Linked DNA regions of Homo sapiens: all the other regions are reported to be linked to region 2. Evidence: microRNA targets listed by miRTarBase, many of them from high-throughput screens and not tested one by one. Region 2 holds a microRNA gene; each other region holds the end of a gene's coding sequence.

Region 1 (4,066 bases), not on the chromosome of region 2:
CTAAGTAAACTACTAAGGTGTAATTTTAATATCATTTTGAAAATATGTATTAAGGTTTCTGATGTTTTAAATAATAAAATTTGGGTTACTATTTCACTTGAGAAAAATGACACTGTCGACCTTTGGTGTATATTTTTGTTTCTCCAATAGGCTCTTTCAAGTGAGTCATTTGAGAGACTTCCAGTTTTTAATAAGTCCGCATGGCGCCATTACAAGACCACGCCTGAAGCCGATGATTGGAGCAATCCCAGCAGTGAACCCAGGGATGCTTCAAAATACAAAGCAAAACAGTAATATACCACCTTGATTTCCATTACAAAGTATCTGATTTGTCTGAATAAAGGTGTCCCACTCACTGTTCCAGGAATTCTTGCAGTGTAGAGGTATTCACAACAGCAAGCAGGGATTTGGCCTGCCATCAATTTTATTTAAAAAGCAATTAAGTTTGCAGTTTGTCCTCATAAACGTTGTAGGTTGAAACTGAAAAATAAGTTAAAATGATCAATCAAGATAAAAGGTGATCTATCCATCCAATGGAATATTATTTGGCCTTAAAAAGGAAGGACATTCTGATATGTGCTGCAACATGGGTGAATCTTGAAGTCATTATGCTAAGTGAAATAAACCAGACATAAAAGGACAAATACTATGATTCCACTTATGTGAAGTACCTAGAGTAGTCAAATGCAGAGACACAAAGTGGAAGGGAGGTTGCCAGGGGCTAGCGACGAAGATGGAATGGGGAGGCATTGTTTCATGGGTACAAAGTTTCAGGTGGAAAGATGAAAAACTTCTGGAGATGGATGGTGGTGATGCTTGCACAACAGCGTGAATGTACTCAATGCCACTGAACTGTACATGTAGCAATGGTTAAGATGGTAAGTTCTGGGCTGGGTGTGGTGGCTCACGCCTGTAATCCCAACACTTTGGGAGGCTGAGGCTGGATGATCTCTTGAAGCCAGGAGTTCAAGACCAGCCTAGGCAACATAGTGAGACCTCTGTCTCAGCAAAAAATTTAAAAAGGTAAAATTAGCCGTGTGTGGTGGTGTGGGTCTGTAGTCCTAGCTACTCAGGAAGCTGAGGCGGGAGGATCACTTGAGCCCAGGACTTCCAGGCTGTAGTGAGCTATGATTCGCACCACTGCACACCAGCCTGGGGGACAGAATAAGACCGTGTCTCAAATAAGAAAAAGGTGGTAAGTTCTATGTTATGTATAGCTTATCACAATAAAAAATGTTAACATTATAAAGGAAAAGTTATCAATCACAGAACAAGTTTCACTGTTTTATGGTAATAAGGAAAATAATCTGTAGTTTTCTTCTGACTATGTACCCTTAAGCTTCAACTCTACTAGCAACAGTGGGGTTCTGCTTCATTTAACTTAAAATAATCCTGTATTAACAAAAAAGCAGTATATGTGCATTATAAAAAATAAGAAAACATTGGCTGGGCGCAGTGGCTCACGCCAGTAACCCCAGCACTTTGAGAGGCCGAGGTGGGTGGATCACTTGAAGTCAGGAGTTGGAGACCAGCCAGGCCAATATGGTGAAACTCTGTCTCTACTAAAAATACAAAAATTAGCCGGGTGTGGTGGCACACGCCTGTAATTCCAGCTACTTGAGAGGCTGAAGCAGGAGAATTGCTTGAACCCAGGAGACAGAGGTTGCAGTGAGCCAAGATAGTACCACTGCACTCCAGCCTGGGCGATAGAGCTAGACTCCATCTCAAAAAAAAAAAAAAAAAAGAAGAAGAAGAAGAAGAAGAAAGAAAACATAAGTAAGCCAAAAAAGAAGGAGAAACCTCTGTGTTCCCAAAACCCAGAGATTGCCACTGCTATAGCTTCGTGTATATTCTTCCAGATATTTTGCCATTTGTGTATATATGTATTTTTTTTGCAAATGAGATTACACTATTCATACTATTTTACAACCTGCTTTTGTTTCATTTAACCATCCCATCTTTCCATGTCAATGATCATTCACTGCAACCTCTGCCTCCTGGCTTCAAGTGATTCTCATTCCTCAGCCACCTGAGTAGCTGGGATTACAGGCGTGGGCCACCATGCCTGGCTAATTTTTATATTTTTAGTAGAGACAGGGTTTTGCCATGTTGTCCATGCTGGTCAAAAAAAAAAAAAAGAAAGAAAAGAAGGAAGGAAAGGAAGGAAAAGAAGGAAGGAAAGGAAGGAAAAGAAGGAAAGGAAGAAAGGAAGGAAGGAAAGGGAGGGGGAAGGGGAAGGGAGGGGAGGGGAGGGAAGGGAAGGAAAGGAAAGGAAAGAGCTAATGGAGCATTTTTTGCTAGAATATCCATAAACACTGTTGCAGAATTACACTGAGACCCATGACATCTCATTGACCCACCATTAGTGATGTTATGATTGAGCATAGTTTAGGTGATGGCTGTCTGATCCCTCTGAGTTATAGTTATTTTTCCCTTTTTCACTAGAAAATAATCTGTGTGGTGTTATTTTGGCACTATGCAAATGTATACTTACCCATCAGCTGTTCACCTAATGGTTTTTACCCCAATTGATCATTTCGGCCTGTGTTAAAATTAACACAGTAATTTTATTTGGGTTTATAAAAGAATGTTTTTTTTTTAAATCATTCCTTTGTCAATTATTCTCCTATAAAGTAAAGCTCTTCCTCATCAAATAAGGCCATTTAGGTATTTTGAAGTACAGTTCCTCTGGTAACTGTTTAACTCCTTCCTTTTAAATTTAAAGGGACAATTAAATTCCCTTCAAGTTACCAATTTTCCAGGTAAGAAATATGTTAAAAGCCACCTTAAATGGTTAACAAATGAGTTTATGGCTTTGTCTTTTTTAGTGTTATAGTAGATTTTGTTACTTTGATATGTTTTAATTGGCACTTATTTTATTGAAGCATAACATATAGTAATAGTAAAGTGCACACATCTTAAGTTTACAGCTTTTTTTTTTACATCTATATTTCCTCTACCCACAAAGACTCCTTTCTAGTCAAACAGTTGTCCCTCCCTCCTCCACCATATAATTGCTTTTCTAACTCTATCACCATAGGTTCTCTTCTTGAATTTACAAGGAACACATAGTCTATACTCTTTTTGTGTCTGGCTTTATGTGAGATTCATCCATGTTATTGCATGTAACAGTCATTTTCCTTTTTGATGCTTGAATTGACATACCTTTGGCCAATGAGAGCTATTTCCAGCTGGATCCTTAGTGTTCTATTGCCAAAACTCATTAATCTTTGAAAGCTTTTCTTGCCCAAGATGATATCCTAGATTCATCTTATACCTTCTGTGCCTGTGTCCTAGAATCAACTGTTTCCCTCAAGGAGTCTTGTTTCTTTTCTTTTCTTTTTTTTTTTTTTTTTTGAGACAGAGTCTCACTCTGTCACCCAGGTTGGAGTGCAGTGGCGCAATCTCAGCTCACTGCAGCTCTACCTCCTGGGTTCAAGCGATTCTCATGTCTCAGCCTCCCAAGTAGCTGGGACTACAGGCATGAGCCACCACGCCTGGCTATTTTTTTTTTTTTTTTTTTTTTGTATTTTTAGTAGAGTTGGGGTTTCGCCATGTTGGCCAGGCTGGTCTCGAACTCCTGACCTCAGGTGATCTGCCTGCCTTGGCCTCCCAAAGTGCTGGGATTACAGGCATAAGCCACTGCACCCAGCCCTGTTTCTTTTTAATCAGTATTAGAGATGCTAATCTGATAATTGGGGATGCTTGTTATACCTTTTTTAGGCCCTTTTCCTTGACAGACAGAGCTATAAAATATAGCTATATTTAAAATATATTTTAAATCATAAGTTCATATTGATATTTTATTCTATTTTAACATTGTAATGTTTCTCCCCAATATATTTTAATTGTATATATTTCTTATTATCCTGAAAACCTTGATTTTTAACATCTTTAACACAATGCAACAGAAAGATATTTGTACACAAATACAGTTTATATAGCTTTGCAGTATTGTACCATTTAGTAGCGTTGGTCTTCTCTGACAAGTGTTATAAATGATATCCATATGGATGTTTATTTTTTTCTATGGAAGTGTCATGGTGGACTGCTACGCAATATTGCT
Region 2 (4,066 bases):
ACACACACAGCTGCCAAGGTGTGGCCCCTCTCTCTGGAAACCTGCAAGGGACACGTCTGCCCTGGAAGCCTGGGCTCCCTGTTCAGAACGGAATCCCTGGGGCCCTCCTCTCCTGTCCTGGTCTGGGGGTGCAGCTCATTATGTGAGGCTCTGGGCTGCTTCCTGTCCGCAAGCGGATCCCATTCTCAGCGCAGTGTCTTCCACCCTCCTGCTCCAGGCACCTGGGTTGCACACAGGGTGCTTCTGGCTTGCAGTCCCGGAGCCCTGTGGGCCCTTGAAGCCTGGGGACGGCCTTCAGGGGGGTCTGGAGTGGTCCACTCTGCACGTTTGGCCGTGATGCCTGGTTGAGCTGCAGCACTTCTCTTGGTGTGCACATTCATTGTGTGTTTAAAAAATACAAAGTAACTGGGTGGAAGCTCTGGAGATGCTTCTGCTCTGACATGCTGGTTTTCATCCCAGGGCCAATCGATCCATTCCGTGAGAAAACTGTTCATGAAGGACCAGTGTGTGGCCAAGTCCTCCCTGGAGGGAGCCTCAGCCCCCAGGATCCTCCCAGCCTGGCCATACGGGGTAGACTGCAGCCCTGACCGGCTCGGTGGGGCGCAGGGAGCCTCGCGGTGCAGCCTGCGTTCCGGTTGGGGTGTCCGCTCTTCCCCCGAGGGGCCTCCCAGCGTCTTTGAAAGGAGCTGGAGCGACGCTCAGAGGTGAGGAGCTTGGTCTGGGTAGCAAGGAGGCTCTGATTTCCTGTCTCCACTCAGCAGCAGCGTGACTTTGGGCAAATTGCTGATCTGTGAGCTCGTGTCTTCCTGGCTGCAAAGCAGGAGGAATGATGGCGCTGCCGCTGCGGTTGTGCAAATGAAGGAGCCCAGCGTCTGCAGAGCGGCCTGCTCAACGCCTGCCGGTGACCTGAGAAGTGGCTTGTCATTTCCTCCCCAGTCAGGCCCTCCTGCGGGAGGGGTGCCGGGGCTCTGATGGCTGTACACGTGCCTGGGTTTCTGTAGAGGATAGAGAGAGGAGAGGCAGGGAGGCTTGCCTGGGAGTCTGCTACCAAAACCATGGAATTCTGTCTCGGGGAGGCACCTTGCAATAAAGAAGCAGCCTCCACAGGCCCCCTGGGAAGTCACCCCCATGGCTGTGTCTGGAGATGAGCTCTGGGCGCGGGGTGCAGCCTGGGAGGGCCAGTGTGCCCCCCACCTAGGGTGGTCCTGCAGCCTTTGCCTTCTATTGCGGATGGTGGCGGGTTGGCCGAGCTTTGGGGACCAGTTTCCTCCAAAGTTACTATGGCCCCAAGGCTCTGGGGACAGGGGCAGGTGGCTCTGGGCGTGGACAGAGCTTGCTCCTTGAGCTGGAAACCCTGGCTAACGAGCGAGCAGAGGCCCTGGGACCACCAGGGGCTGTCGAGCTGCACTCTCCAGGCTGCCAGAGGCTTCCATTAGGCACACTGGTGTTTGATTTTGTTTCCTTGGAAGACCTGGAGTTTTTGTCGGTTCTGAGTCATTTTTCTTGATCCGCGCTGCCAGTTCCATGAAGAAAATCACTTTCAAACAGATGTGGAGGAAAGTGCACCTCCTCACTTGTCCAGACCCGGCCTGAATTCACATGGAAAGGTAATCATTTCCCGCCATGAGCTCACTGAGAGTCTGACAGCACTGTGAGGGGAGGTGGCCAGCCAGGCACCCAGCCTGAGCCGTGACCAGAGGTCCGAGCCAGAGATGCAGCCTTGGGATCTCAGCCTGCGGCGCTGGCCCTGGGGCCACACTCAGCATGGGGGACGCCAGGCTGGAGCAGACGCCAGACCCAAACAGCCGCTCTGCCCCCGGGGACTTTGGCAAGGCTGCTGCCTACGTGAAATGATGGAAAGGTCTAGGCTGGCCCCAGGTCCTTTCTGGCATGGCCTCAGGATCTTGGCAGGAGGATAACAATGCCAGGAGGGGGTGGGCTGAGTCATGTGCCTCCTCTCAGGGGCCTGGCTGCAGTGGTCAGGGGCAGGGTGGCTCATTTTGCGGGCACCGGTGCCCTGCACCTGGAGGAGGACCAGCAACAGGACTAGCCAGGTGGCCGCAGGCCCTTAGGACACAGGGGAGGCCCAGGATTTATGGGAAGGAAGGAGCAGAGCACCTGAGTCTGGGGACATCTCGGGACAGGCACTGCCCCCAGCAGCCTCAGCTTCCCCCCATAAAAGGGACAGACGCTGCCCCATGCCTTTAGCTCCATCACTGTCCAGGGACAGGGACTAAACCCTAGACCCCTCATCCCCAAGGAGTCTTGGACTGCAGGTCCAGCTCTGCAGAGGGGCTGCAGGGAGCATCCAGGGCCCATACTCGTCTGCTCATCTCTCAGTCTCTGTGTTTATGGAACACCAGGGGATGCCAGTGCTGTGCCAGGAGGGGCGGTCGGTGCTGAGTGAGGCCTGCTTCCCAAATCAGGCACATTCTTATGAGACTAAGATTTGTCCCTGCTCATGGACATTAAAAAAATGTCAAAGACAGCAGGATTAAGCGGAATCACAGTGTCCTGCCCCCAGTCCCTAACAGAATAGAAAGGAAAAACTAGAAAAATAATCCCAGCAGAAAACAAACAAGGCCATACACTTTGAAAATTTGTAGCCAAAGACCAGGTGTAGTGGCTCACGCCTGTAATCCCAACACTTTGGGAGGCTGAGGCGGGAGGATCACTTGAGCCCAGGAAATTGGGGCTGCAGTGAGCTCTGATTGCGCCACTGCACTCCATCCAGCCTGTGTGGCACTGTGAGACCCCATCTCAAAAAAAAAGAAAGAAAAATTAGTAGCCAATAAAATAAGCAAAAGATTTCAGAGTAGAGCAGAAGGCAGATTCGTGTGGCTCTGACCTGCCACCAAGCCTGAGTCCCACTGGTACACAAGCGGAGCCCCAGGCCGCCTCTGTGCTTGGGATCTGGAGACAGGGAGTCTTGCAATGCCTCTGGCAGACATGGGAAGATAACTGTGAGTTGAAACTCTCCGTAAGAAGTGGAGGCTCCAGGGATGCGTTGGCCTGTGGGCATGGCCTGAGACCAGGACTGGATGCACCACTCTCCCTGTGATGAGGTGAAGCCAGCTCTGGTCTGGGCCATTTCACAGGATTCCAGAAGCAGGAGCAGAGCCTCAGCATTTGAACGAACCTTCTTCCACTTCGGCTGAGCTCCTCCTGCCACCACCATCCTTGCAGGCTTCCCGAAGGTGGCCTGAACACAAACTGCCTGGGCTTCCTGTGGCTAAGAGGGGAAGACGAGCCTTTGCCAGGTTTTGTGGAAAGAGTTAAAACCCCTCCAGTGCTGTGTTAAAACATATGAGGACCCAGTCAGAGCTGCTCGGGCTTGAAGAGAATGGAAAGGCAGGGAAGGGGAGGGCAAGTGACAGGCAAACGTCCCACAGAGAAACCCGTGACTCAGTGCTGGAGAAGGGACCACAGCATGCGCAAGATAAACATGCGGAAGGCAGAGGACGCACAGCTCGTGAACAGAAAAAAAAAATATTCCTGTGCTTTGCCTAAGAGAACAGTTTGATAAGAACATGAATTCAATAAAATAAATGTCAACAACGTATAAGACTAAGAAATGAAAATAAGATGTCAGACCTCAGGAAGCAAACAGAACCGAAACAGTGTCAGAACCAAACCAATACATTTCAAACAGCAACAAACGACATAGCAAGGCTGAAATTGCTATTGACAGAAATCCATCGTTCTCCAAGTGTGGCTCCTGGACCAGCGGCCCCAGCCTCCACCTGGGAGCTTGTCGGAAATGCAGGTGTCTAGGCTGCACCCAGGCCTGCTGGCTCAGGCGCCCTGGTGGGTGGGCCCCAGCAGCATCTGTGTTTAGCAAGGTGATTGCAGCGCACACTACCGCGTGAACACCGCTGCCCTAGAGGAAAGGCTGAAGACAGCCACAGTAAGTAAAGGTAAACGTGGTAGAGGGATGAAAACTGTTGTGAACTTTGTATATGTAAAACTAATTTATAGGAAGGTGGACAAAGGCAGTCCGGCAAAAGAATCACTGGTGTTCAGACCAAAGTGATTCCAAGTGAAATAGTTTGTGCACACATGGTGT
Region 3 (4,066 bases), not on the chromosome of region 2:
CAACGCTAGGCTGTGCTTCTCTGGAGCCCGCGAGGGGCACCTGCCCAGCCTGCTGGCCATGATCCACGTCAGACACTGCACCCCCATCCCCGCCCTCCTCGTCTGTGTAAGTTGGGGGACCTGGGCCAGGCAGGGCGTGGAGGCAGGGCTACCCGGCAATGCAGGACCTTCCGGGTAATGGCAGGGGTGAGCCATTCCAGGGTGGGGGTTGGGGGTGGGGCCAGGGCTCATCCTGCAGGGGCGTCAGGAGGCAGGCTAGGGGCCAGCCGTCAGCCCCAGGTCCTCTCCCAGTGCGGGGCCACAGCCGTCATCATGCTCGTGGGCGACACGTACACGCTCATCAACTATGTGTCCTTCATCAACTACCTCTGCTACGGCGTCACCATCCTGGGCCTGCTGCTGCTGCGCTGGAGGCGGCCTGCACTCCACAGGCCCATCAAGGTGAGGCCCTGGGACAGCTGGCCCTGTGCCGGGTGCTGCCAGAGCCACCCCTGCATCCACAGTGGGCACCAGGGGCAGGTGGGATGGGAGGTGCCAGCTTTTGTGGAGTGTTGGGCCCTGCTCAGGGCTCTCTGTGCACTGAGGCAGCCATTCCTCATAGCAGCCCCATGAGGACAGAGCTTTGAATGCTCCCAGTGTACAGATGGCGAAAATGAGGCTCAGGACTGGGCACAGGGGCTCATGCCTATTCCAGCACTTTGGGAGGCCGAGGTGGGAGGATTGCTGGAGCCCAGGAGTTTGAGACCAGCCTGGGCAACATAACGAGACTTCCTCTCTGCAAAAAGTTAAAAATAAAAGGGTTAGCCTGGTGTGGTGGTGCGCACCTGTGGTCCCAGCTACTTGAGAGGCTGAAATGGGAGGATCGCTTGAGCCCGGGAGGTTGAGGCTGCAGTGAGCGGTGCTAGGGCCACCGTACTCCAACCTGGGTGACAGAGGGAGACCCTGTCTCAAAAAAAAAAAAAAATTAAAGAAAATGAGACTCAGGAACTGTTCAAGGTCACAAAGGCTGCCAGGATTTCATGAGCCCACACAAAAACAGAAGACCATAGCCTGAGCTAAAAGCAAAGCCCCCCATGTGTGTATAAATCCTTAAGTGGAGAAGTGCTCAGTGCCTGAAATGTGAAACACCAAAAAATCACTGACCTCCAGCCAAGTGCAAGCCTCAAGTCCACACGCAACCGCTGTGTGGAGCTCGGTGCCGCTGAGACTTTGAAAAATCCTCAGCAAAACTGGCCAACGGCCTGACCCATGAATTGGCCTCCAACACACTGGGCTGTCGCCAAGAGGGGGTGTAGTGGGTGCAATTGCCCTTCAGGCCTCAGCTCCCAGGGAAGGGAGGAAAATTCCCCAGACCCCCAGGGGTCGGGGGTACAGACAGCTGGAGGCCCTGCACCATCGGTGTTTCTGCTCCCCCTTCCCCAGGTGAACCTTCTCATCCCCGTGGCGTACTTGGTCTTCTGGGCCTTCCTGCTGGTCTTCAGCTTCATCTCAGAGCCTATGGTCTGTGGGGTCGGCGTCATCATCATCCTTACGGGGGTGCCCATTTTCTTTCTGGGAGTGTTCTGGAGAAGCAAACCAAAGTGTGTGCACAGACTCACAGGTGAGCCGGGCAGCTGCAGGTCACCCAGCACAGGGGGCCGGGGCCTGGAGACCAGACCTCCCTCTTAGAGGCTCACCCCAGAGCAGGGTGTCCTAGCAGCTGAGGTGGGAACACAGGGCCCAGCCGCCACCAAATGTCTCTTCCCAAGATGTACCCAAAGTTTCCAGAACCACGGGTACCGACGGAGCAACTCCCTGAAGACCCCTGCCCAAGGGGAGGTGTCCGGAGCTGGGGGTCACCCCTATCCCGAGAGGTCAGGCCCCAAGGTCCATCTGTCTGTCCTCAGAGTCCATGACACACTGGGGCCAGGAGCTGTGTTTCGTGGTCTACCCCCAGGACGCCCCCGAAGAGGAGGAGAATGGCCCCTGCCCACCCTCCCTGCTGCCTGCCACAGACAAGCCCTCGAAGCCACAATGAGATTTTTGTAGAGACTGAAGCAGTTGTTTCTGTTTACATGTTGTTTATTGAGGAGGTGTTTTGGCAAAAAAGTTTTGTTTTGTTTTTTTCTGGAAAAAAAAGAAAAAAGATACGACTCTCAGAAGCCTGTTTAAGGAAGCCCTAAAATGTGGACTGGGTTTCCTGTCTTAGCACTGCCCTGCTAGCTCTTCCTGAAAAGGCCTATAAATAAACAGGGCTGGCTGTTCGCTCGTGCTATGGGGAGTCCCTGATGGGCACAGATGGGAGTGGCTGGGGCGTACCTCGGTGGGTGCACACATGTTGCTGGCCAGGAAGATGCCGTGGCAGGCCCTGGAGGAGGCTCTTGACATTAGGGGGCTTTGCTGCTTGACACAGGCGCTCCCTACCATGGCACCCAGAGTCCCCCTGCCCTAAAGGGATGTCGAGGATGGGGTAGCAGCTCAGTCCGCCCCTACCCCAGGCCCCTCGATGCCAGTCTGAGCTCGGCCACCCAGGAGAGCTCAGGGGCTCCAGGCTGGGATTGTCTTTCTTCCCGTAAATCACCACAGAGTGAAGGTCAGGACTTCAGAGCCCACAGTCTCACCCTGGCTTACAGGTGGGGAAACCGAGGCCCTGAGATAGGATGGAACAGACGTGGCCACTGCTGTTGGTGCCTCGGCCTCTCTGTCCCCAGAAAGCACAGAGCAGCATGTCCTGGGGGCTTTGAGGCCTGCAGGGAACTCCAGGGGCTTCATGTACAGCAGGCACACACCCCAGCCCTTCCACGGTGCCCAGGAGATTGGACCTTCAGGGAGGGCAAAGGGCGCCTGCCTGGCCAGGGGCATGAGGGTTTGGCAGGAGCCACCCAACCCAGGTCCTCCAGAGGCCTTGCTGGACAGGAAGAGGGTGAGGCGTGAGCAAAATAGTCACCACGGATGAGACCCAGCGTCCCCATGGCCCGGCCCCATCCTCATGACAACTCCCAGCTCTAGGGGCAGCTGTTGCCACTGCAGGGCAGATGAAGCAAAAAGGCTCTGGTCCCCTGCTTCTCTGGAAATGGGTTCCCAGAATGGAGTGGGGGGAGAGAAGTGAGACCCCAGGGTGCTTGTGTACAATGGGACCCTGCAGACGGGCTCACCACTCCACTCTTCTCCCCCCCGCCGTTCAGTCCCACAGCTCCCGCCCACCAGTGCAGCCAGCTGGCTTAGGGGCCAGCCCCTCCGCTGGGGTCCCCGGAGGGCCTCTCCATAAGAAAGGACGCAGAGGCAGGGTAGAAATGACTGTGTATTCCCTGGTTACAAAGCGGGGCTGTGGCGGTCACCAGCGAGCCCAGCGGTCAACAGACCAACAGGGCCTCATCATCGCTGGCCTCCAGCATTGGGGAGCAGGGGGGCGGGGGGTTCCTGCAGACCCCCAGTGGCTCTGGCGAGTGGGGGCCCAGGGTGCTGCTGGCAGTGGAGACCTGGGGGTGCGGGTCCTGGGCTGAGCAGGGCTCCCGAGGTGCATCTGCAGGAGCTGGGCCGTCTACCAGTGGCTCCCTGCAGACCTTTCTGTCCTTGTCCACGGGCCTGCACTCTGGGTCTCGCAGGCCCGAGGGCAAGGGTGGCCCTGAAGGTCCCACCTCCGGTGCACGGCCGGGGGCACTGGGGGGCCTGTCTCCGGCCGCCCTGGTGCTGCCTGTGTCCATGAGCGGTGCTGGGGGGTCGGGGGCAGCCCCTGGAGCAGGCTGGAGGAAGCCATCGCCCAGCACGGTCTGTGAGGGGCGTGCTGCGGTCAGCAGTGGGATCTGGCCTCGGGGCGCCCGCGGCCGGTGAAAGAGCCGGTTCCAGAGGCGGCCGAGGCGGCGGCGGGAGGGCCCCCGGCGGGAGGCGTGCCGACGCATCTGTCTCCGCATGGCTGTGCGAAGATTCTGCAGCACAGAGGCCTGTGGGGTGGAGCAGGGTAGGGGCGGGGGGATGCGGCTGAGGGGGCAGACAGGCTGCTCAGGGGCAGGAGACAGCACACCCCCAAGGGACCTGAGACCCGAGAGACCACCTTGTCCACCCCCCCCACCTGGCCATGGGCCCTCAG
Region 4 (4,066 bases), not on the chromosome of region 2:
TCTACAAATGTGAAGAATGTGGCAAAGCTTTTAACCGATCCTCAAACCTTACTACACATAAGAGAATTCACACTGGAGAGAAACCCTACAAATGTGAAGAATGTGGCAAAGCTTTCAACCGATCCTCAAACCTTACTAAACATAACATAATTCATACTGGAGAGAAATCTTACAAATGTGAAGAATGTGGTAAAGCCTTTAACCAATCCTCAACTCTTACTAAACATAGGAAAATTCAGCAGGGCATGGTGGCTCATGCCTGTAATCCCAACACTTTGAGAGGACTAGGTGAGCAGATCGCGAGGTCAGGAGTTCAAGACCAGCCTGGCCAACATGGTAAAACCCCATCTCTACTAAAAATACAAAAATTTGCTGGGTGTGGTGGCAGGCGCCTGTAATCCCAGCTACTTGGGAGGCAGAGGCAGGAGAATCATTTGAACCTGGGAGGCAGAGGTTGCAGTGAGCCAAGATCGCGCCATTCTACTCCAGCCTGGGCCACAAGGCAAGACTCTGTCTCAAAAAAAAAAAAAAAAAGAAAAGAAAATTCATACTGGAACGAAACCCTACAATTGTGAAGAATGTGCCAGTGCTTTCAACCAGTCCTCGAACCTTTTTAAGAAAATAATTTATACTGGAGAGAAATTCTACAAATGTGAAGAATATGGCAAAGCCTTTAACCAGTCTTCAACTCTTACTAGGCATTAAAAATTCATACTGTACAGAAACCCTACGAGGGTGAAAAACATGGCAAAGCCTTTAACAAGCCCTCAATTCTTAACAGACATAACATAATTCATACTGGAAAGAAACTCTGCAAACCAGAAAGATCTGGCAATGCTTTTGACAACACCTCAAACTTTTCTAACCATAAAAGAAATTATACTGGTGAGAAATCTTAGAAATCTGAAGAATGAGACAAAGCCTTTAAATGGTTGTCACACTTGATTGTAGGTAAGATAATTCATACTGGAGAAAACACCTACATGTGTGAACAATGTGGCAAAACTTAACCAGTGCTCACACCTTATTGCACAGGAAAGCATTTGTACTTGAGATAAATTATACAAATATAAAGACTGAAAAAGCCATTAATATATGTTCATATCTCAACACCAGATAGTTCATACTTAATAAAAGCATTATAAGTACAATTACTGTCAAAAGACCTTTCAGAAAATACAAGCTTTTGACCAGGCGTGGTGGCTCAGGCCTATAATCCCAGCACTTTGGTAGGCCAAGGCAGGTGGATCATGAGGTCAGGAGTTTGAGACCAGCCTATCCAAGATGGTGAAACCCCATCTCTACTAAAAATACAACAATTAGCCGGTTGCGGTGGTGGTGCCTGTAATCCCAGCTACTCAAGAGGCTGAGGCAGGAGAATCACTTGAACTTGGGGAGGGAGAGGTTGCAGTGAGCTGAGATTGCACTCTAGCCTGGGCCACAGAGCAAGACTCCATCTAAAAAGTAAAAAAAAAAGAAAATATGAACTTTACAGTGAAGAATATTTATTTTGAAGATGAATGTTACAAATATAAAGTGGGTAGTAGTGCCTTTACTTGTATCACAGATCTTATTGTAGACATTTTTTGTAGAGGAAAAACTCTGAAGCACTTTCACACTTTGTTCAATATCAGGGAATTTATATTGAAGAAAAATCATGCAAATGTAGTAAATTTGGAAAAACACTTTTTCAAAAACTACAGCTTAGAAAACAGAGTTCATACTAGAATATATTTTTGCAGATGCAGTAAAAGTTAAAAAAAATTTAATCCATAAGTAAGTCTGTGTAAATATCAGAATTTATGGTAGAAATACATAAGGCACTGACAACATCAGATATACTAAATCAGAGGGCTGAGTATAGAAAATTAAAGTTGGTAGAAAAATTATTTGTATATAACTTTAAGAGGATCAGAAGGTTTTTTGCAGTTATAATTACATTCAAAGTATACTTTATTTCTTGAAAAATATTACAGATTTTTTGAAAAGTGAATAATGATGTCATTCAACTCTGAAATTCCTGCCGTTTCTTCATTCCTATTGGATTCACATGTGAAAGCATGGGATCAATTATTGCTGTATCAAAGATATGAAAGATTCTTTCTTTGTTTTGTTCTGTTTTTTTGAGATGGAGTTTTGCTCTTTCGTCCAGGCTGGAGCACAGTGGCATGATCTCGGCTCACTGCAACCTTCAATTTCCAGTTTCAAGCGATTCTCCTCCCTCAGCCTCCTGAGTAGCTGGGATTACAGGCGCATATCACCACGCCCAGCTAATTTTTATGTTTCTAGTACAGACAGGATTTCATCATGTTGGCCAGGCTGGTCTCAAACTCCTCACCTTGTGATCCACCCACCTTGGCCTCCAAAGGTGCTGGGATTACACAGGCATGAGCCACTGCTCCTGGCAAGAGATTCTTTTTTATTAGGTGGGCATTATTTGTGATCTTTTCTATTGAAAAGTAAAAACATTAGAATGTAAGATGCATAATGAAAATGTAAGTGGAGAGGTTCTTTGGGGTTAACTTATAATATTGAGTGGTGCATGAGGTTGGTGTTCAGAGTAATATTCTGCATTATGAAAAAACATTTAATTTTATTTAAAATTTAGTTTATCATACTAATTGTACTTTTATATAAGATGCAGTACATTTTTAAAATTTTAGATTGTGTGAAGTTAATAGTTTAACATTTTTAACATGTTAAATACTATTGTGCATTCAATGAAGCATTATTATACCACAAACTTTACCCTGTTCCACCTTACTGAAGGGTATAGGTAAAAGATGGTAACGATATACTATTTAGTAACATAATGGATTAACATCTCTAGTAATTTTTTTTGCCAGTGGCTTTAAACCGCAAATAAGTTAAAGAATATTGTTTCTGTAGGTTAAATTTTTATTTTGTTTTTAATCATTTAAATTTAATTTTGGTGGGTACATAATATGAGTATATATTTATGCACTTATATGGCATATTTTAGTACAGGAATACAATATATAATAGTAGCATCAGGGTTAAGTGAGGCATCCTTCACCCATAGCATTTCTCCTTTGTTTTACAAACAATCCAAACCTACACTTTTTAAAAATTTTTTGTTGTTGTTGTTCTTGTTGTTGTTGAGACGGAGTCTCGCTCTGTCGCCCAGGCTGGAGTGTGCAATCTCGGCTCACTGCAAGCTCCACTTCCCGGGTTCACGCCATTTTCCTGCCTCAGCCTCCCAAGCAGCTAGGACTACAGGCGCCCACCACCATGCCCGGCTAATTTTTTGTATTTTTAGTAGAGATGGGGTTTCACCATGTTAGCCAGGATGGTCTCAATCTCCTGACCTCGTGATCTGGTCTCGATCTCCTGACCTCATGATCTGCCTGCCTTGACCTCCCAAAGTGCTGGGATTACAGGCATGAGCCACCGTGCCCGGCCACTTTTTATAAATTTTAAAATGTACAATTGTTATTTACTATAGAGTTATTTTTATGGTCATAATACAAATTATATATGAGTATAAATAAAATTCATTTCTAAACTATTAATATTTTTTCCAAATTGTTATATATTTTTCTTTGAACATGTGGCCTGTCTGCCTGCAAACATGCAGACTTTTTGATTCACATAGAGTTAAATATGTATTAGTCTAAAGACAAACTTTAGGTGTAAGAAAATTATGGAATAAGTGTGTGTGTGTGAGTATGAGTTTGTACCTATTTTCAGAAAAGAACAATATGGGAATAAAAATCATTTTAATAAGGTGGCTACTATAAAACTAAAAACCTTAAAAAATGCTGAAAGCAAATGTATACTTTGTGCTTTGTATTGAATTTATTACTGTACAATCCATGACTTACAGTTCTGAACCTTTTCATGCAAATTCTCTGTATATACTTGCCTGGTACTCATGCTAGACCCATACTTTTTTTGTTTCTTACATTTTTTTTGTTTTATGGTTTAGGAAGTATTCATTATATGAGCTGGTCTGTGATTATAAGAATTTTTATGAAATTTAGTGCACACAAAATAATTTTTAGATGTAATTCCAAAAGTAGTGTATTAAGTTACATTTTATTTA

The links. Region 2 holds the annotated microRNA hsa-miR-4786-5p (UGAGACCAGGACUGGAUGCACC, at 3,027-3,048, shown strand). A microRNA usually pairs through its seed, bases 2 to 8, with sites in the 3' UTR of a target mRNA and lowers its output. Matches are read on the target gene's strand: a 7mer-m8 pairs with bases 2 to 8, a 7mer-A1 pairs with bases 2 to 7 and ends in A, and an 8mer does both.
Region 1: miRTarBase lists PDK3 as a target of hsa-miR-4786-5p. The part of its 3' UTR that is shown has no 7-base or 8-base seed match.
Region 3: the mRNA of LRP3 is a reported target of hsa-miR-4786-5p. Seed matches in the 3' UTR shown: 7mer-A1 at 3,086-3,092 and 7mer-A1 at 2,933-2,939.
Region 4: miRTarBase lists ZNF714 as a target of hsa-miR-4786-5p. Seed matches in the 3' UTR shown: 8mer at 2,321-2,328, 8mer at 3,312-3,319 and 7mer-m8 at 3,339-3,345.

Annotation. Positions count from the first base shown.
Region 1 is chrX:24,533,779-24,537,844 of GRCh38, forward strand. PDK3 (pyruvate dehydrogenase kinase 3) reads left to right here. Exons shown (of 11, transcript NM_005391.5): 11 at 151-644. The coding sequence ends at 294. Among named protein-coding and RNA genes, the nearest start is that of PDK3, 71 kb to the left of the region's middle.
Region 2 is chr2:239,942,045-239,946,110 of GRCh38, reverse strand. It overlaps MIR4786 (microRNA 4786), which reads left to right and starts at 3,017; the gene lies at 3,017-3,096. It also overlaps a transcript of NDUFA10 not described here. RefSeq lists enhancers at 1-389, 532-641, 772-821, 390-1,326.
Region 3 is chr19:33,206,842-33,210,907 of GRCh38, reverse strand. LRP3 (LDL receptor related protein 3) reads right to left here. Exons shown (of 7, transcript NM_002333.4): 7 at 2,044-3,920. The coding sequence ends at 3,333. SLC7A10 (solute carrier family 7 member 10) reads left to right here. Exons shown (of 11, transcript NM_019849.3): 8 at 10-106; 9 at 292-441; 10 at 1,423-1,600; 11 at 1,887-2,244. The coding sequence ends at 2,017. Among named protein-coding and RNA genes, the nearest start is that of LRP3, 15 kb to the right of the region's middle. RefSeq lists an enhancer at 3,290-3,791.
Region 4 is chr19:21,117,935-21,122,000 of GRCh38, forward strand. It overlaps ZNF714 (zinc finger protein 714), which reads left to right. Exons shown (of 5, transcript NM_182515.4): 5 at 1-4,066. The coding sequence ends at 398. Among named protein-coding and RNA genes, the nearest start is that of ZNF431, 22 kb to the right of the region's middle.